Regions from separate parts of the Homo sapiens genome. Here region 1 is linked to region 2. The links come from fine-mapping of genetic effects on plasma protein levels. A gene starts in region 2. The other region holds a variant in brackets. All regions are shown on one strand. Distances are between the middles of the regions. Region 1 overlaps RSPO4 (R-spondin 4). Region 2 holds the start of RSPO4 (R-spondin 4).

Region 1 (10,330 bases), 42 kb after region 2:
ATCCTCCCGCCTCAGCCTCCCGAGTAACTGGGACCACAGGCATGTACCACAACAGCTGGCTATGCGTTTATGTTTTTGTAAAGACAGGCTCTTGCTATGTTGCCCAGGCTGCCCCTGGGCTCAAGCGGTCTTCCCACCTCAGCCTCCCAAAGCATTGGGAGTATAGGTATGAGCCACCACACCTGGCTGAGCACTGATTTTGGAATAGGACAGGCCTGGGGTCCAATCCTAGCTCTAAACCTTACCCTTTAGTGATCTTAAGCAAACCACCTCAGCTCTCTGTCCTTCGGTTTCTCCAAACGTTAGAAAAAAAAAAAGACAATAGAACATAGAGCCTACCTCATGGGGAGGAATTGTTATGAGGATAAAGTGAATTAGTACAATTTAAAGTGCTCAGTACAGCAGCCAGCACACAGTAGATGCTCAGTACGTGTCAGTATCAGTGTTATTACTGCTCTGATTATTTCCTAACAGCTCCTTGTCACACTCCTGCCTGTGAGCCCTCCCGTTCCTGCACTAGGCTGCTCCTTGGCATTCTCATCTACACTGTGCCTCTCTGCCCACGCATTCCCTCCGGGCTCACATTCATGGTCATTCCAGCTGCTGATGGCCCCTGACTCCGTGTCTCCAGCCTCCCTGAGCAGCTGATCCTCACCTCCACTGCCCTCTGGGTGCCTTCTTTCCACTCCCACTGCCACCATCCCCCACCTAACGCTCCCTCTGGGTTTCCTCTGGGTTTCAATAACCAGCTCCCTGATCCCTGGGTGGCATGCGCGAGATGCAGACATCGCTGTTGACTCTTCTCTCTCCCTCACCCTATATTCAATCCAATCTGTTCATTTATTCACTCTGAAAATATCTACTAGAGCATCTGCTATGGCCAGGCACTTTCCTAGGTGCTGGAGACACATTACAGAACAAAACAGACAAAGCCTCTGCACTCAAGGACATGACATTTCAGTGGAGAGACAGAAGCGACACCTGAGAACAAATGCATAATATTTTGGGTGGTAGGAAGAACTTTGGGGTGAAAATGAAGCAGCACGAAGCTCCCAAACCCACACCATTCAGCTCATCCCTTTCTCCCCACCCATTTGTTTCTGTCCTCTGTGCCGCCCTCTTCCCACCCTCTTGCCACCCCCTGCCTATCGCCAGGGTTCTGGCCACAGCTCCTGCCCGTCTCCCGCCTTGGTTCTCAGTCCCTCCAGCCCAGTCTCCACTCAACAGCAGAGGGAGTATTTCACAATGATAGTCTGCTCAATTTCTTTTCCTCCCAGGACCCTTCAGTGGCTCCCACTGCCCTTGGGCGGAGCCCACCCAGGCCCTGGGCAATCTGTCCCATCTGCCAGCCTTTCCACCCCCATCATTTTTTTCCTCCTCAGTTTGAGCTTATTCTCCGGCTTGCCCAGTTCCAGGCCAAATCATCCTGGGGACTCTGCTGGGGTTATGCCCTCACTTGGAGCACCTCCCGTCCCTCCCTGAGCCTGGCTAGGCTCCCCTTCCCCGCCATCCCACCCCCACTTCAAGACCCAGTCCAGGGGTTTCCTCCCCTACAACCCAACCCATGCTGCTTCTGGGCTCCCACGGTGCCTGCACTTCCCTCATCACGGCGGTGTCCAGATGGTGAATTCCAGGAGGCCTGCAGACCCTGGGCTGTCTTGTCTGCTGCTGCTCCCTCAGCACCCAGAATAGCACCTGGCATACACTGGGTGCTCAGTCTTTACTTGTCAAATGTGTGTATCTAGCAAGGTCTGGGTCCCACTGTGTCTTGAGCTTGCTGTGTCTGCTGTGTGAGCCTCTTGCTGCGTTCCCTTAGCAAACCTCTGCTCTAGGTCTCAGTGTCCAAATCTACAAAATAGGAGTATTCATAGCTACCCATATTCTGTGCCTACTTCTCATGGACTTTTAAAATAATCAAAGTATATATATATATATATGTGTGTGTGTGTGTGTGTGTGTGTGTATGTGTGTATATATGTGTATATATATATGTGTGTGTGTGTGTATATATATGTGTATATATATGTGTGTGTGTGTATATATATGTGTATATATATATGTGTGTGTGTGTGTATATATATATATACATGTATATATGTATTTTTATTACCCCCTATGAAGAACTTTTATGTCCATGGCCTCCTTTTTCTTCCTTCCAAAGTTGATCAAAGACACATGATCAAGTTTAAAACCTGTGTCCTGGTCCTGAGGGCTTCCCAGGCAACCTTCCAGCCTCCTCTCCTGTCCCCGCCTTCCTGAGACTTGACTCCCAACTCAGGCTGCCCCATCTCCCAAACATGGTGGGCCGGGCTCCCAAGGCTTTGCACACCTGCCTGGAATGGGCTTCCTTCTTCTCACCTGACGAGCTCCCCTCTCTCCCTTTAACTCATACATCACCTCCTCCAGGAAGCCTTTCCTTTAAAGCTAGACAGTCGGCCGCTCTGGCTTCAGGCCCATATTAGTCTGTGCATGCATTCGTTTCGCTCTCATTCCAGGCTCTTATAAATAACTCTGCTCCTAGCAGGTGGAAGTGGTGTCTTCAGTCTTCAGAGGACTGAACCCCTCAAACCCTGCCCTTGGATCTGAAGGACCCTCACTGCCGGCTGACCCTGTCTGTCTGTCTGTCTGTCTCTCCTTTCACCCCACAGGGGAGTGTGAACTGGGTCCCTGGGGCGGCTGGAGCCCCTGCACACACAATGGAAAGACCTGCGGCTCGGCTTGGGGCCTGGAGAGCCGGGTACGAGAGGCTGGCCGGGCTGGGCATGAGGAGGCAGCCACCTGCCAGGTGCTTTCTGAGTCAAGGAAATGTCCCATCCAGAGGCCCTGCCCAGGAGGTGAGCCCCAGGACAGGCACACGAGGCTGCGGTGGGAAAGGCCCACAGGGACAGGGCGGACTCAGATCACTGCCCCACAAATAGTATCTATGAGACTGCCTGAAAGGCCACCATTAGCCATACTATCATGTGGAGTACACATCACCTTCCCTGGTGTCCTTTCAAAGGAGGGCCTTCCTTGCTGGGTTCAGTCCCAAATACATTAGGAAAATTGAGCTGGCCAGGAGTTCCCAACCCTCTCAAACTGAACACCCCCCTTTTAATAAGAAGGATTTGGGAATACCCTCTTTATCATTCTTAATGAAGTTCATGGAGAATGTGGCCTACTTGCAAAGGTAATTTTTTTTTATCAGTATAGTGTCCTAACTGTAATATAGAGGAGAAAGAAAAGAAATTTCTTGATGGAAGCGCTTGGCCCAACATACCAACAGACACTTAGGGAAGTACAATCCCAGTGAGGACCGCGGCCGTGGTCAGCGCCCCAAGTACGTGGCCACATCGCCATCAGAGATGCGATTTCCCAACAGTGACCAATGATTAGTAAGGTCCAACCCAATTGATCTCTGATTGACACCACACTCACAGTGCCCTAGAATCTTCAGTGAATGGAAGTGTTCGAAACCAATTGGTATTCATGAGTCAAACAGAATTCAGCTCCCAGCAAGCAGACTTTTCAGCTACGTGAGGGTGGGGCACGATGTGAGAGAACTGGATGGAACAGGGGGACAGCTCGTCTTTGC[G/A]GGGGACTGTCCCACGCTGGATCCCGATTGCCGTCCACTGAATGCCACAGGAACCCCCTTCACTGTGCCATTCAAGACCACTACACGTATTTCCAAAATGTTTCTGGGGGCTATGAAGGACCACTGATTTACATAGAAGAGAGGCCACAGGGTGTGCTTGGTAAGATGTGAACGGTGAGTAGTATTGGCAGTGTTGACTGGGCACTGTGCCGAATTCTCTATAATCGTTAACTCATGTAATCTTCGCAGTGATGCTATGCGGTAGGTGTTATTAGCACTATCCCCATTTTACAGATGAGGGGACTGAGGCCCAGAAAGGTTGAGTCACTCACCTAAGGGTCACAAAGCCAGGGAGCTGTAGACCTAGAATTCAAACGTAACTCGTCATGCAAAGAGGAATCTAAAGTCATGATGAAGGATGAGGGACCTGGAACCAGGCCACCCGGGGCACCCAGCTGGGACATAGTGGAGCCAGGATTTGAACTCAGGGACACTCCTCTTTCAGAAGGACTTGTGCTATTTGGGTTGGGAGTGCAGCTAGCAGAGATAGGAGCCTTTGGGAGTCATGTTGGGCAGGTGAGGACAGAGTGAGGTTGAGGTGGAACCAGAGAACCTAAGAGACCCCAGAGCCAGAGCAGGACTCACACAGGAGGCAGACAGTTCTTCTGCACTCATTACCACATGGCACCTCTCATGGCTCCAAGAGCTGGGGGTGAATGGCTGTTGGGGAATCATGAGGGGAAAGCTTTTCCCCTGGATAATAATAATCACAATAACTGCAAACATTCATAAAGCATCTACCATGTGCTGGCTGTGCTTAGTGCTGTGAAACATGACTCTAATCCTCGCAACAACCCCGCTGTAGCTCCCTGCATCACCCAGGTCTTGGCTGCAGTGGCTCCTCCTCAGAGAGGCTTCCCAGGAGTCCCCCTCCCCGGAGTCATTTTCCATCATATCACATGGTAGCACTTGCACCCTTCTGAAATGAGCCTTCTCATTCTCGTGTTTGCTTGTTCAGCGTCTGTTTTCCTTACTGGAGTGTGATCTCCAGTGACGGCAAGGGCTTTATCTGCCTTGTTCACAGCTGTCTCTCTAGTGCCTCTAACACAGTCTGGCACATAGTCGGTATCCAGTTAATATTTGTTGGATGAGTGGATGGATGGCTGAATGCACAGGTGGGTGAGTGGGTAGGTAGATGGGTGGATAGGAGGGTAGATGGGAGGGTAGGTGGGTGGATGAGTAGGTAGGTGGATGATTAGGTGGGTGGGTAGGTAGGTAGATAGGTGAACAGGTGGATGGATAGGTGATGGGTGGGTGCCTAGGTGGATGGATGGGTCATTGGGTATGGAGGTGGGTGAGTAGATGGGTGAATAGGTGGGTGAGTGTGTAGGTGGGTAAATAGGTGGAGGGATGGGTGGGTGACTGGATGGGTACATGAGCAGCTGGCAGGCAGGCCTAGGGAAGGGGTAGGGACACAAAGCCACTGGCCCCCACACCCCCACATCAGAGCCGGCAGGGCCACTCAGGCAGCACCCACACCCCATCTCCAGATGCTGTCCTACCTGAGGCCTGCACAGTCAGCTCTGCAGCTCAGAGTGGGAGTTGGCCTCAGTGCTCCCCAAGAGCTCAGAGTGGGCGTGGGGAGCCCCAGAGGTGGGTAGCCTGGTCTTAGCTCCTTGACTCTGCTCTGCAGAGGAAGGAGCCAGGACTGGAGCCACAGCCCTGACTCTTGGGGAGACGGGCACATAGTTGACACCCAAGGAATAAAACTGCCCTCCCCTTGCCACTAGGCTCAGAGGGTCTCTAACAGCCTCGCTGCGCACCTTCAGAAAGTGACTCATGGAGCCTCAGGTTCATCGTGTTCAAATGGACACACAGCTCCTTGCGGGGAACTGAATGGGGCCCAAGCAATGTAGGAGAATGTCCTGGGTGTGGAGACACTTTGTAAAGCAGAAACTTAGGGCTGGCCTTGCTCCCAACCATGCTGTGGTCTTCTCACCTGTCCATAACAATGACAGGCAACTGCTCAGAAGAACTCCCTGGGCAGCGGGCACAGCCAGAGTGGAGGTGGAAGGAATAAAGGAAATAAAGAAGAAAAAGAAAGGAAAGGTAGCCTGGCACAGAAAAATGATAGAAGGGTGGAGAGAAAGAGAGGACAATTGGAGAAGACGGGACTGGGTGTGGCTCAGACCCTACCTGCCTCTCTCGGCTGTTGTGAGTTTCGTATACATAAAGCACTTGGGGCTGTGGCCTGCATACAGTGAGCGCTTGCTAAATGCTGAAGTATTGTTGCCACAGTGTTATGCAGAAGTTGGTGCAGGGACACAGATGAAAGGTGTCCAGCGTCCAGCACAGAGCCTGCTCAGCTATGGAAGGAGTGTGCCGGGGAAAGCCATGGGGACTCCCATGAGGCCACCCGACATGCTGATTGGGGGGCCCCAGGTGAACCTGCAGGCCTGGCCGAGCCAGATGTCCAGCACAAGAAGGCCCTGAACAAGTTAGTGGCCCTCGCCACTCCCTGAAGACCTAGAGAGAAAGGTTCAGTTTGGGGTACCTTAGCCCACGGTCCAAACTCTCAACAGGAGGGACTGCAAGGTCAGTGCCCAAATGTTCTGAGCCCCGTTGTTGGGGAGTGGGTGGGGCACCCTTGTCTTTCAGGACTGAGGAGGCTCCCAGGACCTAACTGGCCCTGCAGCCTTGGTCACCGGGCTCTGTCCTCTCATTGCAGAGAGGAGCCCCGGCCAGAAGAAGGGCAGGAAGGACCGGCGCCCACGCAAGGACAGGAAGCTGGACCGCAGGCTGGACGTGAGGCCGCGCCAGCCCGGCCTGCAGCCCTGACCGCCGGCTCTCCCGACTCTCTGGTCCTAGTCCTCGGCCCCTGCACACCTCCTCCTGCTCCTTCTCCTCCTCTCCTCTTACTCTTTCTCCTCTGTCTTCTCCATTTGTCCTCTCTTTCTTTCCACCCTTCTATCATTTTTCTGTCAGTCTACCTTCCCTTTCTTTTTCTTTTTTATTTCCTTTATTTCTTCCACCTCCATTCTCCTCTCCTTTCTCCCTCCCTCCTTCCCTTCCTTCCTCTTCTTTCTCACTTATCTTTTATCTTTCCTTTTCTTTCTTCCTGTGTTTCTTCCTGTCCTTCACCGCATCCTTCTCTCTCTCCCTCCTCTTGTCTCCCTCTCACACACACTTTAAGAGGGACCATGAGCCTGTGCCCTCCCCTGCAGCTTTCTCTATCTACAACTTAAAGAAAGCAAACATCTTTTCCCAGGCCTTTCCCTGACCCCATCTTTGCAGAGAAAGGGTTTCCAGAGGGCAAAGCTGGGACACAGCACAGGTGAATCCTGAAGGCCCTGCTTCTGCTCTGGGGGAGGCTCCAGGACCCTGAGCTGTGAGCACCTGGTTCTCTGGACAGTCCCCAGAGGCCATTTCCACAGCCTTCAGCCACCAGCCACCCCGAGGAGCTGGCTGGACAAGGCTCCAGGGCTTCCAGAGGCCTGGCTTGGACACCTCCCCCAGCTGGCCGTGGAGGGTCACAACCTGGCCTCTGGGTGGGCAGCCAGCCCTGGAGGGCATCCTCTGCAAGCTGCCTGCCACCCTCATCGGCACTCCCCCACAGGCCTCCCTCTCATGGGTTCCATGCCCCTTTTTCCCAAGCCGGATCAGGTGAGCTGTCACTGCTGGGGGATCCACCTGCCCAGCCCAGAAGAGGCCACTGAAACGGAAAGGAAAGCTGAGATTATCCAGCAGCTCTGTTCCCCACCTCAGCGCTTCCTGCCCATGTGGGGAAACAGGTCTGAGAAGGAAGGGGCTTGCCCAGGGTCACACAGGAAGCCTTCAGGCTCTGCTTCTGCCTGATGGCTCTGCTCAGCACATTCACGGTGGAGAGGAGAATTTGGGGGTCACTTGAGGGGGGAAATGTAGGGAATTGTGGGTGGGGAGCAAGGGAAGATCCGTGCACTCGTCCACACCCACCACCACACTCGCTGACACCCACCCCCACACGCTGACACCCACCCCCACACTTGCCCACACCCATCACCGCACTCGCCCACACCCACCACCACACTGCCCCACACCCACCACCACACTCCCCCACACCCACCACCACACTCGCCCACACCCACCACCAGTGACTTGAGCATCTGTGCTTCGCTGTGACGCCCCTCGCCCTAGGCAGGAACGACGCTGGGAGGAGTCTCCAGGTCAGACCCAGCTTGGAAGCAAGTCTGTCCTCACTGCCTATCCTTCTGCCATCATAACACCCCCTTCCTGCTCTGCTCCCCGGAATCCTCAGAAACGGGATTTGTATTTGCCGTGACTGGTTGGCCTGAACACGTAGGGCTCCGTGACTGGGACAGGAATGGGCAGGAGAAGCAAGAGTCGGAGCTCCAAGGGGCCCAGGGGTGGCCTGGGGAAGGAAGATGGTCAGCAGGCTGGGGGAGAGGCTCTAGGTGATGAAATATTACATTCCCGACCCCAAGAGAGCACCCACCCTCAGACCTGCCCTCCACCTGGCAGCTGGGGAGCCCTGGCCTGAACCCCCCCCTCCCAGCAGGCCCACCCTCTCTCTGACTTCCCTGCTCTCACCTCCCCGAGAACAGCTAGAGCCCCCTCCTCCGCCTGGCCAGGCCACCAGCTTCTCTTCTGCAAACGTTTGTGCCTCTGAAATGCTCCGTTGTTATTGTTTCAAGACCCTAACTTTTTTTTAAAACTTTCTTAATAAAGGGAAAAGAAACTTGTAAATGCTTCTTGAGCATCAAGAGGGTGTTGCAAAACCATGATACTGCTGAGTTTGGAGTAGCAGAATTTAAAACATGTGGAGTGGTTTTCACAGGAATGCTTGGGGCTGAGAGGGGTCAGAGTGTATTGGGGATTGGGGTGGGGTTTCAGCTTGGGGGGAGCTGATAAAAGAGGAGGGGCCCTCAGCCCCTCCAGGCTACTCTCAAGAAGCAGACTCAGCCAGAGGCAGAAGAGGGTGACACCTCGATCCCCAGAACCTCGCAGTTTCACGAACCAGATGTCTCAGGGACCAGGGGTACCTAGGAGGTTGACAGTCCCACGGGGCCATCTAAACACCCTGGGCTGCTGGTGAGAGTGGCCTTGGCATTGGGAGGCACAGGTGGGAGCTCCAGCCTGTCACCAGCTATCTGATGGGGTCCAGGTCAAGTCACTTCCCCTTCCGGGGCCTCAGTTTTCCCATGTGATGAATGTGATGAAGAGGAAGCCTGGCTAAATTAAATCTATTGCCGAAATCTGGAAGACCCAACAACAGAATCCCCTGGGGAGCCTTTTAGAAATTCAGGTTTTGGGGCCCTCCCCCAGATCTATTCATTGCAAACAAGTTTAGGAGCAGGCAGTGAGAGCAAACATTCTTTCCAGGACAAGCTGAGGGGAGAGGTGGCTCTCAGATGACTTCCAGCTCAGAGGGCTGAGTCTAGATTTGCAGCTGCAATTCTGATTCTGACCTCAAGGCTCAATGATCTGATTCTACAGAGTTTAGTCTGTATGTGTGTGTGTATGTGTGTGTATCTTTTTAATTTTTTTTTTTTTTTGGCAGGGTCTTGATCTGTCACCCAGGTTGGAGTGCAGTGGTACGATCACAACTCACTGCAGCCTCAAACTCCTGGCCTCAAGCAATCCTCTTGCCTCAGCCTCCCAAGTAGCTGGGACTACAGGTGTACACCACCACACCCAGCTAATTTTTTATTTTTTGTAGAGATGGGGGTCTCAATATGTTACCCAGGCTAGTTTTGAACTCCTGGCCTCAAATGATCCTCCCACCTCAGCCTCCCAAAGTGCTGGGATTACAGGCATGAGCCACTGTACCCAGCCCCTATATAAATAAATATATATATAAATATATATATATATACACACACACACACACACACACATACATACACTATATAGTGTTTTCTGTTAAGATTCCAGTTTTAGGATGCTGAACGTTCTAATTTTCACAATTCTAAAAGACCAACATAAGGGTAGAAGTTTCCAGTACTGCAATTCCCTGGCCATGTTCTTTCTTCTTGGGGGGCCTGGTCCTCTGTCCTCAGCTGGGGGCTGTGGTGGTTTTTTAATATTTTCAAATTACAGGATGAAATTTCTTCAGGGCCTAAGCCCCTCCTATAACCTTTCCATCTCAGACGTTCCCTGCCCCCAGCTCCAATCCTTTCAAATCCCAGCCTCTCCCACATTCTCTGGAGGATTGAGGGGCCTCTCTGGGAAGGAGACTCTGCTGTCAGGTGGGCATCGCCCACTCCCTTCTTACAAGCCAAGCTTGGAGAAGTTCACAGAGAAGCTCAGAAACAGGGTGAGGTCACACAGCCAAAGAGAGGCAGTCTGGGCAGAGCCCAGGGGGAGGTTCCGCTGCTATTGGCCTTCTGGATGCTATGCCAGAGGGAGAGAACAACCCCTTGGCCAGAGCTGAGGAATCCCTGGTGGGTTCTTCCTGTCACCGCTTCCAACTGGGCCACACTAGGGCCCTCTCTGCAGTTCCCCCCACCCGCTCACTCCATCCTCATCCTCACCACAGCCCTGCATGTCATTCCCACATGCTGCCACCGGATGACGGCAGTCAACCAGGAACAGGTCGCAGCCAGGCTTGTCAAGGAGCGCATTTCTGAAACGGGGTCGTGTTGCGGTTCTCTCCTAGCAGGACTGGAGCAGGGTGGAGGGTAGCCGAGGGCAAGGGACAGGCTGCCTCAGACCGAAGGACTGACTGCCTCAGGCTGAAGGACAACAGTTGCAATGGGG
Region 2 (10,383 bases):
TCAGACAATTTCAACATCTGAGTCATTTTAGTATTAGCATCAGTTGGAACTTCAGGTCTTATTTCATACTTTAGTTTAGCAGGCAGCAGTTTCCCTGTTTAAATGTAGCATGTGAGTTCTCGTTTACTTTTGTGGGCTTTAGGTCCAATGACAGTAAACTTGTTGGAACCCTTGCAATTATTTATTTATTTTTTTTTTTTGAGAGGAGTCTTGCTCTTGTCACCCAGACTGGAGTGCAATGGCACGATCTTGGCTCACTGCAACCTCTGCCTCCAGGGCTCAAGTGATTCTCCTGCCTCAGCCTCCCAAGTAGCTGGGATTACTGGCATGCACCACCACACGTGGCTAATTTTTGTATTTTTAATAGAGATGGGGTTTCACCATGTTGGCCAGGCTGGTCTCGAACTCCTGACCTCAAGTGATCCGCCCACCTCAGCCTCCCAAAATGCTGGGATTACAGGCATAGGCCACCGCACTTGGCCTGGAACCCTTGCAATTCTATTCTAGTAAGCCTTGTTCTTCTGGTGCTACTGGGGCTGGCATTACCCTGCTACCAAAACCAGACAAAGACAGAACAAAAAAGAGAAATATAGACCAATATTCTTAATGGATTTAGACACAAAAATCCTCAGCAAAATATTAGTAGGTAGAATTCAGCAGTATATAATGGAGAATGGTACACCATGGCCAAGTGGGGCTTATTCCATTGAAGAAAGGTTGGTTTTATACTTAAAAATCAATCAATGTAATACATCGTATCAGTAGACTAAAGAATAAACATTAAATGATTATACCAATGTGCAGGAAAAACATTTGACAAAATTCAACAGCCATTCATAATTTTAAAAAATGCTCAGAAAAGTAGCAATAGAGAGGATCTTCCTCAAGGTGATATAGAGTGTCTACAAAAGTCCTACAGTCTAATGTCATAGTGAATGACTGAATGCTTTCCCACTAAGATTGGGAACCAGGCAAGATTGAGAACAAGGATGTCTATGCTCATCACACTTACTCGGCATATGGCTGGAAGTTCTAGCAAGTTTGATAAAGCAGGTAAAGGAAACAAAAGGCACAAGATCAGAAGGAAAGAAAACTGTCGCTATTTGCAGTTGATATGATTGTCAATGTTGCAAAACCCAAAAAAATCTACAAAAATACTCCTAGAACTAATATATGAGTTCAGCAAGGTGCTAGGATACAAGATCAACACACGAACATCAGTTGTATTTCTATCTGCTAGCAATGAACACACGGACAGCAAAATTTAAAATAGAATACCATGTATAATTTCTAAGGGAGAAAAAAGGAAATAGGTATAAATCTAACAAAACATGCACAGGAGTTGTATGCTGAAAATGACAAAACATTTATTTAAAAAAGTCAAAGAAGATCTAAACAAATGGAGAGACATACTATGTTTTTGGATTGAAAGACTCAATATAGTAAAGATGTGAATTCTTCCCAAATTCATATACATGTTTAATGCAATTCTAATCAAACTCACAGCAAGATTCTTGGTAGATATAAACAAGATTATTCTAAAATATATATGAAAAGGCAGAGGAACTAGAATAGCTAAAATAATTTTGAAAAAGAAGAATAAAGTGGGAAGGATCCATCTACCCAATTTCAAGATTTATTATATAGTTACAGTAATCAGTACAGTGTAGTATTGGTAGACAGAAAGACACATAGCCCATGGAATACAGGAGACAGCCCCAAAATAAATCCATGCCAATATGCCCAATTAATTTTTGATAAAGCTTTTACATCAAAGCATACTGGAGCAATTGGACATCCGCAGACGAAAAATAAAAAATGAACCTCGAAATAAACAAAAATTAAAAACGAACATAAAAATAAACAAACAAAAACATAAAAAAATAAACAAAAATACAAAATGAACCTTGACATAAATCTCACGCTTTGCAAATCACGTAACCAACAAAGAACTTCTATATAGAATATATACATAGAACTCTTAAAACACAATAGTAATGTAAAAATCCAATTTAAAATGTGTGAAAGATATGCACAGACATTTCACCAAAGAGGATACACAGAAACCTATACACAAGTGAGCATGGCACCTTTATTCTTAATAATGAAAAACTAGAAAATACCCAAATGTCCTTCAGTGGGTGAATGGTTAAACAAACTATATTACATTCATACGGTGGAATACTACTCAGCAGTAAAAAGCAAATAACTAATACATGCAAAACTAAAATGAATCTCCAAACAAATTGTGCTGAGTGAAGAAAGCCAAATCTCAAAAAGATGCATACTGCATGACTCCATTATACAATATTTATGTAAAAACAGTTATAGAGATGGGAGGCCAGGCGTGGTGATTCACACCTATAATCCCAGCACTTTGGGAAGCCGAGGTGGAAGAATCACTTGAGCCCAGGAGTTCAAGACCAGCCTGGGAAATATGGCGAAACCTCACCTCTGCAAAAAATAAAAAATTAGCCAGCCATGGTGGCATGCACCTGTAGTCCAGGCTACACAGCTGAGGCAGGAGAAGCTTTAGCCCAGGAGGTCAAGGCTGCAGTGAGCCATGATCGTGCCACTGCACTTCAGCCTGGGTGACACAGCAAGACCCTGTCTCAAAAAATAAAACATTACAGAGATGGAGAACAGATTAGCGGTTGCTAGGGATTAGGACTGGAAGTGGAGAGGGAGGGTGGAGCCATAAATGGATACCATGAAGGAGTCTTGTGATGATGTTTTAGTATCTTGTTTAAGTATGTTTAAATATCTTGATTGTGGTTGTATTATACAAGGCTACACACAGGTCAACGTTGCATCCTAGGAAGCCCCTCAATCCCTGGCAAACCAGACAGCTGGTCACCCTAGCAGATGGCCCCCTAGTAGGGGCCATCACGTAGCCCTTGCATCTCTGAGGAGAAATTTGGTCTTCACCCGATGAATAATACATGTCCTCTGGCTGCTTAAGAAGAGCTTGTAGGGGTCAGAGCAGACACAGGAAGGAGCTACTGCATGACTGGGGCAAGAAATGAGGGTGGCCCAACGTTGGTCAATGGGCCAGATGTTCACCAAATTCTTGCTTTTCCTCCTGTGTGTTGTCTGGCACATGGCTGGACTACATTTCCCAGTCACCCTTGCAGGTAGGTGTGGCCGTGTGTCTGAGTTCTGGCCAATGGGACATAGGTAGACAGGCTCTGTACTTCCCATAAGCCCTGCCCTTCTCGGTGAGCTTTAAACCAGGTACTGAACAGGGCAGAACACAAGCTGAAAGGAATCTGAGTTCCTGCTATCCCACAGAGAAGGATCTGCTGATCAGGAACACATGCTGTGAGCTTAGTGTGTTTCAGCCATTATACCTGTCTTCATCTATTTGTGACAATGGTGCCTTAACTGACACCCTTGGGTGCACCCCTCCCCGCCCCCCGCCAGAGCATGCCATCAGCATCACTAGCCTCCCTGGGCACCTGTATTGGGGTAGGGGAACTGGATAACAGGCCAAGATGCCCAGACAGCCCCCATAGTTAGAGAACCAAACACCCTCTGAGCATCTTGGGGTATGAAGGGCCCTGAGTTCTGGGCCTTAGAACCCTAGAAATATCCAATTCTGGAAGCACTAAAGGGGCTCTCACAGAACACAAAATCCCATCTGTGCCATTGAACAACTGGGGAAATTGAGCCTAAGAGAACAGAAAGTACTTGAGGTCCCACAATGAATCTATGGATGAATGAGTGCTTATTCATTCACTCATTTTTTAAAAAAATCCATTCCACAAGTATGTCTTAATCACTGCAGTGTAAGGCACATAGGGACAAAATAGAAGATTCCTGTCCTCATGGAACTCACAAACAAGCAAACAGGAACTGACAGACATGAACAGGTACTACGGAGGGTAAAGCAAGACAAGAGGATAAAGTGCATGGTGGTGCGTTTTACTGGAGTGGTCACAGGGGGCCTCTCTGAGGAGGCAACATCGAGGGGAGACAAGCCCCAAATCTGGGGAAAGACTTTCCAGGCAGAGAGAACAGCAAAAACCGCAGGATGAGTGACAAGAGTCTGAGAAACACGAGGCTAGCTAGAGCAGAGGCAGTGGGGAATAAATAGGGGAAAAAATTCAAGAAGGGGTAAGCAGCTTCATCCTGCAGAGCCGTGTGGCTGGCTGTCAATTCACAATGCACATTGGACCTCTCTGGCCCTGCTCACATGGAAGCTGTCCCCTTTGGACTTTGGAGACTCCAGTACTGGGGGTAGTGGGGAAGGGAATGACCTCCGCTTTCCTAAGGCTTGATCTTCTGGGGTCACCTCATTTCTCCAAGTACCTGCATTCCATGTACAGGCTGGGAGACTTGTGCATCTGGAGAATTCATTCATTCACCATTCATTTATTTATGCACTCATTATGCAAACATTCTGAGCACCGCTGTGTGTCTGGCTCTGGCTTGAAAGAGATGGCAGTTTGGAAGGAGAACAGACACATCCATTGTTACCACCTGATGTGATCAGAGCTGTGATAAAGAGATTGTGGATGCCCAGAGGAGGCACTGGACCTGGCCTGAGAATCAGGGAAGGCTTCCTGGAGCAGAGGCAGTGAAGAAGGAGGTAGGATATAGGATGGTATTCCATGGAGAGGCCCCACAACATGAAAAGCTCAGAGGTGTGAGAGGCCTGTGGTGTTTGTGAAATATTCAAGGGCTGAAATCTCTAAGGCTAAAGAGAGAGGGGTGGGGCAGTGGGAAAGACTGAGATCAGAGATATCAGAACAAGAGGTCCTTGCAGGCCATGGTGATGACCACAATGGGACACCTGGATGCCCATGTCAGCTCAGTCCTTGACTCACTGGGTGGCCTAATCTAGGCACCCCCCAGTCCTGAAGGCTCAGTGGCCTCATCTGTGAAATGGAGCACTTTGGGTGGGCTGTCTCTGACATTCCACCAAGTTCTCCGTGTTGTCTGCCAGCGTTCTTGGGGCCCCACAGAAAGAATGGCCAGGCCAGGGCTGTACCTTCAGCTGCCACACTCTCTGTGTGTTTCCCCTGCCCCTGCCATGCCTTCAAGTGTCCCTCATTGCACTGGGAGAAGGAGCTGGAGGAGATACCAGCATTTACCTTCCATTTCTTTTGGAGCAAGCTCCACATGTAGGAAAAAAGAGGACAGGCTGGGTGGGGTGGCTCACGTCTGTAGTCCCAGCACTTTGGGAGGCTGAGGCAGGTGGATCACTTGAGGTCAGGAGTTCAAGACCAGCCTGGCCAACATGGTGAAACCCCGTCTCTACTAAAAACTACAAAAATTAGCTGGGTGTGGTGGCAGGTGCCTGTAATCCCAGCTACTTGGGAGGCTGAGGCAGGAGAATCACTTGAACCCAGGAGGCAGAGGTTGCAGTGAGCCGAGATGGCGCCATTGCACTCCAGCCTGGGTGACAGAGTGAAAACCCATCTCAAAAAAAAGAAAAAAAAAAGAAAAGAAAAAGGAAGGACAATTGTTCAGCAAGAGAGTGTCAACTGTAAGTTTCTCTAGGCCTCCCTCCAAGGCCTCTTCCATTCTGATGAGTCTGTGCCTGAGAAGTGGCTAAGAGGGGCAGGCACTGGACCAGAATGGCCACTGACCTGCTGTGTGGCCTTGGGCAAGTCACTTGGCCTCTCTGAGCTTCCCTTTGCTCCCCAGAAAAGTGGAATTACTCAGAATACAAACCCAAACCATTGGGTTGTTTTGAAGACTCTAGTATATGTCAAGTTCTTAGCAATGCCCACCATATATGCCTCACAAATGATAGCTAGCATGATTGTTGTTGTTTTTGGTGGTTATAGTGACAGGAGAGGTGAGCATGCTGTCGGGTTGAAGGAGGAATTTTGCTCTGAAAGGGTTAAACTTGAACCAGCTGCTCCCAGTCCTGGTGATAAGGTTGGAGGAAACACAGTCCAGGTCCCCAGCCCTGTCACAAGTGGATTTATGAGGTGCTGGTCACTTTGAGTCGGAGTAGATGATCCCCGCAGACTGCACAGGAAACATTCAGGGTTAGTGGCCAGAAGGGGCTCAGGCCTCTGTTAAAAGAATGAGACAGAGTAGAGAGAAAAAGAGAAAGCCAGGCAGCAGGAGCCCCGCAAACACCCCACCCTGCAGGAGGGGAGAAGGGGAGAGATGGGGTTGAAGGGAGAGACAGAGAAAAGGGAGAACCAGAGGCCCAGCCAGGAGGACACAGACAGTGAGCCTGAGAGAGAGACGGCCGGCAAGAGTAAAGGATGCAGGAACAGCCAGGCAGGGTCGGGGGCAGAGCAGGGGAGCGCGGGCCGCGGAAAGACCGAGAAAGCAGGAGACAAGGAGTTGTCCTTAAGGGCCAGAAGGAGGAACAGACAGAGAAAGGGGACTGGGGGGAGGGAAAGAAAATCACAGGCGCTGAGAGGGCGCGGGGGACCGTACGGGTCTCCGGGTGTCCGCGCATCTGTACCTGCGCGCGCGTGCGTACCTGTGGCTGGCGGTGGGCACGTGCACGTGCTCGGGGGCAGTGCTGGGGGCGGGAAAGACGCAAGACCGCCGGCTGCGGGACAGATCGAACTCGAGGGCCCCGACCCGGGTGACCCCCGCCCCCTCCCCGCGCGCGCTCCCGGGCCCCGAGCTGGTTAACGCGCCGCCCCCGCCGCGCCGGCTCCTCCCCGCCAGGGCAGTGCCCCGGCTCCGCCAACGCCCTCACTAGACCTGGCGGCCGGACCGACCCGCGCCTGGCGGATGCGCCCGGCGCGCCCACAGCAGCCCCCGCGCCCGCCGTGCCGCCGCCGGGACGTGGGGCCCTTGGGCCGTCGGGCCGCCTGGGGAGCGCCAGCCCGGATCCGGCTGCCCAGATGCGGGCGCCACTCTGCCTGCTCCTGCTCGTCGCCCACGCCGTGGACATGCTCGCCCTGAACCGAAGGAAGAAGCAAGGTACAAGGGGTGGCTGGGCAGGGCGGCCGGGCAGGCGCTGCGGGGCAGACCGGGGGCCGGAGGACCGGGGGCGGCGGCTCTGGGGGCATCTGCCTGGTGCCTGGCGCCCTGGGTCCTTCGCTCCTCCAGACGAGTCTCAACCTCACTTAAGATGGGGAGATTGAGGCTCCAGGGCACCCAGTGAGCGAGCCATTGAGTAGGGTGGGCCAAGGAGACTCACCCAGAAGGGAGAGGGTAGCAGGGCTCTCTGTAGTAGCCGCATGGTCAGCAGAAAGGAGGATGGCTTCGTGCAGAGACAGAAGACTCAAGAGCCAGCCTGCGGGGCACAGGGACTAGGAGACAGACTCAGTGGCGTAGAAGCCATTCCAAGCATCCATGCTCGGCCAGGAAGTGACATAGAGAGCCTTGGGCTGGGCGTCCAGAGGCCCCAGTCCCAGCCTCATCACTCACCCTGACTCCTGGTGTCACCTCCCAGAGGGCAGTGATCCTCCATGGCCCCCCTATGTTGAGTTCAGCCAGACCTGAGACCTGAGTTCAGGTTCACTTATTCTAATAGGGGATGACCTAGAAGAAGTCCAGCCCCTCAGAGAGCCTCAGCTTTTCCATCTTCACCTCTCAGGCCACTAGGAAGATGAGCCAAGGTTCAGATTATAAATGTACCAGGGGCCGCATGCGCTCTCACCTGGGAGTCCTATGCCACAGCCTCGCTGTGAGAGTCAGAACATCCTCAGAAGGTGGGTTGGAGGCTGTCCCTGCAGAGCAGGAGTTGGTAGAGCCTGTGCCTCAGAGAAGGGTAAGCGGGTGAGCAAGTGAGCAAATCGCCTGCCTGAGCTGGGCAGCCCTTTGGCCTCCAGGTGCCACTCTTAAGATCAGCAGCCGAATGCCAGCCACTATGCCACGGGTTTTTCATGTCCTAGCTCATCAAATCCCAACTATATGCTCATGACATAGGGGTCGTCCAGTTTTAATAAAGCCTGGGATTCCAAGGCTCAGACTGGTTTAAATAACTGCTGAATTGTCCAGCTGGTGTCTTCTCTCTTTCCAGCCCTGGCATCGGGTCTGAGCAAGGATAAAGGGGAAGGAAAATGAGAGAGGATGGGTTGCCCTCTGGGGCCTTCCATTTGTGTGAAAGCCCTACAGCGACACAGTCACTCCTGGAACGGAGCAGGAAGCAGACAGAGGCTGTGGGAGAATTGGGAGGTGGGATTGGATGGGGTTGGGGAGACTGTGGCCCAAGAGGCTCCAGTTCTTGCTGTGACAGTGGGACAAGGGACTAGAGAGGCGTGTGGTTTTCAGCTGAGCTGGGGTGAGTTTGGGACTCTATGGGGACACTCCTTTGTGAATGGCCTTTGTTTAGTAGTTAGGGGCATGGGCTCTGGAGCCAGGTCAACTGAGTTCAAATCCCAGCTTCCCCAGTTACCAACTGAGTGACTTTGGATAAGTCACTTTGCCTGTCCAATCCTCACTTTACCCATCTGAGGGTCCTTTAGAAGATCTCTGAGATCTTTCTCCATTCTAAACAATACCAAAAAATCAAACAAACCCCCTTTCCCTTCATCAACCCATCTTTTACTTAAGTATCCTGCTCATAAGGAGGATTGTGGGCAAGATGAGTAGCTAAGGACACAGGCTCCTAATGGGTGCTCGTAAGTATTAATCATTCTCATTTCCTGTCCACTGTGTCTTTGGCTACTCACAGTGGCTTAGTGGAGGGAGGGGAGAGATGCTTGTTTTCTGGATGAGGGAACTGAGGTTCAGAGAAGGAAACTGACTTGTCCAAGGTCGCACAGCAGGTGAGTAGCAAAGCAGGCTCGAATCCCAATCTGCCTGACATAATGCTGAGAAGATATCTTCTGAGGTGTGCTGGTCTTCCCTTCTCAGAGCCTCAGTTTCCTCATCTAAAGAGGAGCTGGTTTAGGCCAGGTGTGGTGGCTCACGCCTGTAATACCAGCACTTTGGGAGGCCAAGGCAGGCGGATCATTTGAGATCAGGAGTTTGAGACCAGCCTGGCTAACATGATGAAACCCTGTCTTTACTAAAAATACAATGATTAGCTGGGTGTGGTGGCGGGCGCCTGTAATTCCAGCTACTTGGGAGGCTGAGGCAGGAGAGTCGCTTGAACCCAGGAGGCAGAGGTTGCAGTGAGCCGAGATCATGCCACTGCACTCCAGCCTGGGTGTCAGAGTGAGACTCTGTCTCAACAACAACAACAACAACAAAAAGGAGCTGGTTTAGAAGACTTTAAGATGCTTCTCAGCTCAAAAAAGACAAAAAAATTAAAGAAAAATGAAAAATTCCTATCCTGCCCCTTTTGCCCCCCGCCCCATCTACAGCTCACCACCACCTCCCCAGGAGCTCAGTGAGGAGGTAGGGATATGGCCGCAATTTGGTGAGGGGCTCTCAGCATCCCTCCTCCAGTACCTGATCTCTTGCCTCTGGGACACACACCTGCCTAGCATCTTCAGAAGAGGCTTAGGGCTCCATTTATTTGTTGGGGTACAATGGAGATAGCCTTGGATTTCAGTCACACCCCTGACCCAGTTGTATCATGTGACCTTGGGTGAGTGGATTTTCTCTGTCCCCCGCCCATAGCCTCAGTTTCCCACTGGCACTGCAGTGGGGACCAGAGCTAGATAAACCCTTCCTGTAGCATATTTTGCAAGGCAGCCACAGGAGTTCTGGTCAAATAGATTGGGAAATGCTGGGTTTAGCAGATTTCTTGGCTGTGAGACTTATCAGAGCATGCTGAAGAGGTGGAGACAGACAGTGTAACCCAGGTGCGATGGCTCAAGCCTATAATCCTGGCACTTTGGGAGGCCAAGATGGGAGGATAGCTTGAGCTCAGGAGTTCGAGACCAGCCTGGGCAACATGGCAAAACTCTACAAAAAATACATTTTTTGTCTCTATAAAAAAATACAAAAAATAGCCAGGCATGTTGGTGGTGGTGCACACCTGTAGTCCCAGCTACTTAGGAAGCCGAAGTGGGAGGATCGCTTCAGCCCAGGAAAGACATCAAGGCTGCAGTGAGCCGTGATTGTGCCACTGCACCCCAGCCTGGGCGACAGAGCAGACCCTGTCTCAAAAAAAAAAAAAAAAAAAGAGAGCGAGAGAGAGTGACCTTTCCCAAACATATTACACATCAGAGACCATTTCTCATAAGGCATCTGCTTGGAAAATTCTGTACACAATCCCTCAGGGTCCTACCAGCTTTGACCTTATCTAACTTTGGCAGGAGAATGTGTCCTGAAAACACCTGGGTATTGGCAGTGCTTCATTCATTCACTTGTTCATTTCACAGGGCAGCCTCTGTGCCAGGCTCTGTGTTGGGGACCTTGGAGATACCCAGGTGAGCAGCCCTGGGCCTGTCCTTGGGGAGCTGCCAACATAGAGGGATGACCCTTTCCCACCTTTCTCCAGCCTCCCCCATGCCTGAGTCTTTGGCCTTAGCGTTTGGCCAGGTCTGCACAATCCCGAGGAAT

What was found. PIP is the chance, under the fine-mapping model, that this variant and not a neighbour inherited with it causes the effect. Sun 2018 read protein levels with aptamers (SomaScan).
Region 1: its variant is fine-mapped to the plasma level of the RSPO4 protein (Sun 2018, PIP 0.95).

Annotation. Positions count from the first base shown.
Region 1 is chr20:956,439-966,768 of GRCh38, reverse strand. It overlaps RSPO4 (R-spondin 4), which reads left to right. Exons shown (of 5, transcript NM_001029871.4): 4 at 2,649-2,834; 5 at 6,303-8,317. The coding sequence ends at 6,412. Among named protein-coding and RNA genes, the nearest start is that of RSPO4, 41 kb to the left of the region's middle. The variant G/A (reference allele first, on the strand shown) is at 3,575.
Region 2 is chr20:998,606-1,008,988 of GRCh38, reverse strand. It overlaps RSPO4 (R-spondin 4), which reads left to right and starts at 6,678. Exons shown (of 5, transcript NM_001029871.4): 1 at 6,678-6,903. The coding sequence starts at 6,825. RefSeq lists a silencer at 3,074-3,254 and an enhancer at 3,049-3,343.